2 separate regions of the Homo sapiens genome follow, and region 1 is linked to region 2. Evidence: fine-mapped expression QTL. A gene starts in region 2. The other region holds a variant in brackets. All regions are shown on one strand. Distances are from middle to middle.

The links. PIP is the estimated chance that this variant, and not a neighbour inherited with it, causes the effect. A credible set is the group of variants that fine-mapping cannot tell apart.
Region 1: its variant is the best candidate, but not a certain one, in a credible set for the expression of PRKRIP1 in monocytes after Pam3CSK4 (Quach 2016, PIP 0.68).

What each region holds. Positions count from the first base shown.
Region 1 is chr7:102,366,459-102,369,368 of GRCh38, forward strand. The region is part of intron 2 of LOC100630923 (LOC100289561-PRKRIP1 readthrough); the gene reads left to right. It also overlaps the pseudogene LOC100289561. Among named protein-coding and RNA genes, the nearest start is that of SPDYE6, 11 kb to the left of the region's middle. The variant G/A (reference allele first, on the strand shown) is at 1,447.
Region 2 is chr7:102,394,660-102,397,569 of GRCh38, forward strand. PRKRIP1 (PRKR interacting protein 1) reads left to right here and starts at 1,704. Exons shown (of 6, transcript NM_024653.4): 1 at 1,704-1,878. The coding sequence starts at 1,753. The region is part of intron 4 of LOC100630923 (LOC100289561-PRKRIP1 readthrough); the gene reads left to right. RefSeq lists a silencer at 1,560-1,639 and enhancers at 1,660-1,899, 1,681-2,222.

The DNA of each region.
Region 1 (2,910 bases), 28 kb before region 2:
ATTCATACTTTAAAATGGGAATGTGGAAATAGACATTATCCTGTAAAATATAGTTAGTGTGGCAGATCAGCACCAAAAATGATTTGTGAAGCTTGTATGTATGGGTAGTATATTTTAAGGCTGTTGAAATTGAGCCGCACCTAGGACTGATATTCTTGGCAGTCATCACAAAAGGAAAATGCCATCTGTATTAGTCCATTCTCACACTGCTATAGAGAAATAACCAAGACTGGGTAATTTATAAAGAAAAAAGGTTTAATTGGCTCACGTCTGCAGGCTCTATCATAGGAAGCATGGCTGAGGAGGCCTCAGGAAACTTACAGTCAGGTGAAAGGTGAAGGGAAAGCGGGTGCATCTTCCATCACCAGAGCAGGAGGAAGAGGGAACATTGGGGATTACAATTGAACATGAGATTTGGGAGGCGACACACACCGAAACCATATCACCATCCATGACATCGTTTGCATTGATTATAAGGAGAAACCAGTTTTGTTACTTGTGCATTTAAAAGATTTTCTAGGACTTGGAAAAATTTCTTCATTCAAGTTGATATAATTGTGGATAGCTTTCCTAACAACAACCATTAAATTACTGTAACTTATGGCTTATTCTCGGTGCTTATGTAAGCAGAGGGCCTGCTGCCCAAGGAGAACTTGGTGCATAATTTTTCCAGGGACGGAAATATCGTGATCCAAGTAAACAATTCTGTTTTTACTGTTGAGTCCTAGATCATGGGGGGAATGAATGACGTGATCATCCGTCAAATATTTGTTCGTCTTTTTGTTCGGGTTGCACAGCAAACAATACAAACAGTACTCTCTTGTGAAGATTTCCTCATTTCTGTTTCTCATTTCACTTCTCAGTGTTTTCGTTTTGTCCTTTTCACTTTGCTAAGTCAGTCAGTAAAGGTGACCAGTGATTTAATTGCAGTCAAATCCAGCGGGCATTTCCTAGCCCCTTCCTCACAGGACCCTTTGTCTGCCTTTGACATCCGTTACTTCCAAACTGATATTTTCTCCATGGAGTCTCTCTTTTCTTGGCTTTTGAAAAGATTCATCTGTAAGTATTTGTTTGTCTTTAAATGGTGAAGTCTGTTTTGTTTTGTTTCTTTTTTTCTTTTTTTGAGATAGGGTCTTGCTCTGTCGCCCAGGCTGGAGTGTAGAGACATGATCACAACTCACTGCAACCTCAATCTCCCGGGCCCACACGATCCTCTTGCCTCAGCCTCCCGCGTAGCTGGGACTACAGGTGCACGCTGCCACACCTCGCTAGTTTTTTTGTATTTTAGTAGAGACTGGCTTTCACCGTGTCATGCATGTCGAACTCCTGAGCTCAGGCAGTCTGCCCGCCTCGGCGTCCCAAAGTGTTAGGATTACAGGCATGCGCCACTGCTCCCGGCCTAGAAATGTACTCTCACTGTATTGCTCAGGCTGGTCTCAAACTCCT[G/A]GCCTCAAGCAGTCCTTTCACTTTGGCCTCCCAAAGTGGTAGGATTACAGGTGTAAGCCACCACACCTGGCCAATAAGGAATCTTTTTAAAAGGGGCTAGGAATAACCCATAATACTCTCTTTCTTAATACATGTGGCAGTTGGGTTAAATCTTTTAATAGTTCCCATAGTATGTCTCCTGTGTGCTTATTGTTTTGAAGAAACTGGGTTGGTTATCTTCAGTTTGGATTGTGTTACCCTTGTTTCACCTTTAGCACATTTTTAAAAAATATCTTTTATGCCTTGGTAAAATTGGTAGTTTGATCTGGAAGTCTAATCAGGTTTATGTTCAGTTCTTTTCACACAACTATACCATATGTGGCATTTGTCTACTTCTGGAGGCACGTGTTACCTTCTTTGTTTTTGTGAAGTTAAGAACTATTGACTGTTGATTATTGCTGTGATTTACTATTGCTGTGATTTGCCTTCATTAGGGGAGGCAAAATGGTGATCTGCTAATTCTACCATTTCTTCTTTATTTACTAGCCAAAATACCTTTCTTTTCTTTTTTTGGAGACAGAGTCTCACTCTGTCACCCAGGCTGGCACGTTTATGGCTCACTGCAGCCTCAAACTCCTGTGCTCAAGTGATCCTCCCACTTCAGCCTCCCAAGTAGCTGGGAGTATAGTCATATGCCACAATGCCCAGCGGATTTTTAAATTTTTAGTAGAGACAGGTTTCTCTATGTTGCCCAGGCTGGTCTGGAACTGGGCTCAAGTGATCCTCTTCTTTGACCTCCCAGTGTTGGGATTATAGGCATGAGCCACCACGGCTGGCCTAGAATACTTTTCTAAAGATAAATTTCTATTCTCTGTTTGTTTATGTAATTCATGCAGGAAAGACAGTTTCTAAAATATTGAGTAGGCTTTTAAGCAGGAGGGTATTTTGTTTTGTTAACCATCATGAGCTCATGGGTTTAAACAGATAGTAAATATTTCAGTACATAGAAGTTGTGATTCTTTTTGAAAATTAAGTGGTTCCATCTTTGGCCAGACGGAATCCCTTTAAGTTGGTTTCTGAGTCCTTTTGAGATATATTTGATATATATGATAGCAAATGTATACATATAATATATATTTGATAGCAAATATATACATATAATATATATTTGATAGCAAATATATGCATATAATATATATTTGATAGCAAATATATACATATAATATATATTTGATAGCAAATATATACATATATATTTGATAGCAAATATATGTATATATTTGATAGCAAATATATATAAATTTATATGATTTCAAAATAAAATGCTAAAGTGGTTCCATCTTTGGCCAGACGGAATCCCTTTAAGTTGGTTTCTGAGTCCTTTTGAGATATATTTGCAAAATATGATAGCAAAAGAGCACATATAAAAAATAAATGATTGCAAAAATGCACATATAATAGATATTAGATAGCAACAAAAAGCAG
Region 2 (2,910 bases):
CTCAATGTCAACTAAACAAAAAATCAGGCTTTTAAAAAATTAAGGTTGGTTTTTTGCAATCTTACTGAGGACTGTAACCAGGGAAAGTCTTTCACAGAGTTTGTTAAACTGCTCCAAAACAGAGTTTCAGCACACATTTATATATTTATATTTATATACAGTTTATATAAAAACATTTATATACAGTTGGTGGTGCCCTGCATGTGCTCAGAAGTTATATCAAGCTGGGCGTGGTGGCTCATGCCTATAATCCCAGCACTTTGGGAGGCTGAGGCGGGTGGATCACCTGATGTCAGGAGTTCGAGACAAGCCTGGCCAACATGGTGAAACTCCATCTCTACTAAAAATACAATAATTAGCCAGGCGTGGTGGCGTGCACCTGTATTCCCAGCTACTCAGGAGACTGAAGCAGGAGGATCACTTGAACCTGGGAGGCAGAGGCTGCAGTCAGCCGAGATTGCATCACTGAGCTCTAGCCTGGGGGACAGAGTGAGACTCTGTCTCAAAAAAAAAAAAAAAAAGTTATATCTAATGTGCTCAGAAGTTAACAATAGAGCAAAATTTCATCAAGGCTGTGTGTGAGGGTATTATCTAGTTACAGATTACAGAGGCTTGGCTGGGCATGGTGACTTAACACCTATAATTTCAGCACTTTCGGAGGCCCAGGCAGGAGGATCGCTTGAGCCCAGGAGTTCAAGACCAGCCTGGGCATCACAGCAACACCTTGTCTCTGCAAAAAATAAAAATAAAAAATTAACTGGGTGTGGTGGCATGCGCCTGTAGTCTCAGCTACTCAGGAGGCTGAGGTGGGAGGAGTGCCTGAACCCGGGAGTTCAAGGCAGCAGTGACCTATGATCGAGCCCCTGCACTCCAGCCTGGGCAACCAAGCGAGACCCTGTCTCTAAAAAAAAAAAAAAAGTTATAGAAGCATAATCATTAATCCCGTCAGAGATTATGTACAGGAAGAGGCAGGGGCTAGGATCATTGAACTTGTCTTTTCTAAAAATGCAGTGTTCAGGCAAGAGAGGTGGAAACCTGTGTTCTCTCTCGCTCTTCCCAGCTTATTGTTCAGGGCGTTATTGGAGAGGGCTGCGCTCAGTCACCGAGTCACGGCCTTTGTGAAATCCTGCTCGCAAGCAGAATGAGCAGACATGGTTCCTTAGGTTTATTACTGTGCCTCACACTACGAGACGGTCATTCATTGGCAGAGGTGTATTTGCGGGGGGCCAGGTATAGAGTAATTCAAGGCGGACAAAGGAGGAATGTCCCAGTCTTCAGGAAGCTCAGTGACATGTTTGCGCTGTCTTATGTAAACAGGAGATTGTCAGAAATGGAGGAGGGGGCACCAGATCCAAGGAAGTGCCCGGACAAAGCCGGGAGGCGAGGAGAGCCGACGGGGAGGAGGTGCCGAGAGCATCAGCGGGGCTGCTCGGTGGCACGAAGACGCCCGCGGGGACTGGAGAGGTCGGCTAGGGCCAGGCTACTCAGGCACGGAGGGCCACCTCCCCTTCAGGGACGTGAGCATCTAGCTGCACTGATTTGTTGTTCAGGAACAGGAAATGAAACCCCGCAGCTTTGAACACAATAACCCACGCCAGCCTCAGGCTCATGAATATTCAGCAGGCTGCTTGCGCCTTGCAACCCCGCCTCCGTTCCCCTCTGCGGAGACTGCGTATGCGTCGCCGGCGCGCGGCTGTGTCGTCATACTTGCGCGCCGACGCCGCCGCTCGCTTGTGAAACTGGAAGGCTGCCATGGCTAGCCCAGCCGCCTCCTCGGTGCGACCACCGAGGCCCAAGAAAGAGCCGCAGACGCTCGTCATCCCCAAGAATGCGGCGGAGGAGCAGAAGCTCAAGCTGGAGCGGCTCATGAAGAACCCGGTGAGACGAGGCCCAGGCTCCACGGCCCGTCCGAGGCCCACCCCCTTCCTCTGCAGCGCTTCAGGGTTCCCGCAGGTCCACCTTCCCCGCCTCCAAACTCAGAAACTCAGTATCCGACCCTCCAAGAGCAGTCTTTGGGGAGGAGGAGGAGAAGGAGGCTGTCCCGGAGATAGTGAACTTCCCGTCTGTCCTTGTGTGAGAGCCCAGCTTGAATCAAAGCACGGTGGAGCGGCTTCCCGTGCTCCAAGACCCCTTCTGGTTTAACTTTCTGTGAACAAAAAGCGTTAGACTGAAAAGGTAGAATTTGTGGGTTAGCAAAAGGGTATACTCTAAACAACACTGATCGTTAGAGAGACAGTGGCCGAGACGTTTGGAGCTGGTCACTCCTCTCCCGCTCACACCCCCTCTGGGCCTCGGTCCCCTCAATCATAAAAACAATTGAACGGGAACGTCCTTTATACCTTTAACTAGAAAAGCTTGACTCTTCTTATCTAGTAGTGTTAAAGTTGGCGGTTTCTAGCTGGAAACTATGGCTTAGGTTTTTCAGTTCTGCTCTGGAAAGCGTAGCCCTGGGAAGGTGTGGACTGTGTTATACCCAAGAGTACATAGGATGAAAAAAGCCACGACAGAGGGAAGAACACAAAATCAGCTCTGTGTCCAAGTAGCAAAGCAGTCCTGCTTCATTAGTCAATTAAAATTCTTTGGTCTTAAGAGATGTAACTTGGGCTGGGTGCTGTGGCCCCTGCCTGTAATTTCAGCGCTTTGGGAGGCCAGGCGGGAGGATGGTCCGAGGCCAGGAAGGAGTTCAAGACCAGCCTGGGCAACATAGTGGGTCCCTGTCTTTACAAAAATAAAAAAATTGCCTGGTGTGGTGGTGTACGCCTGAGAGTCCTAACTATTCTGGAGACTGAACCGGGAGGATCACTTGAGCCCAGGAGTTCAAGGCTGCAGTGAGCTCTGATTGCACCACTGCACTCCAGCCTGAGGAACAGAGCAAGAACCTGTCTCTAAAAAAAGAGAGGGAGATATATA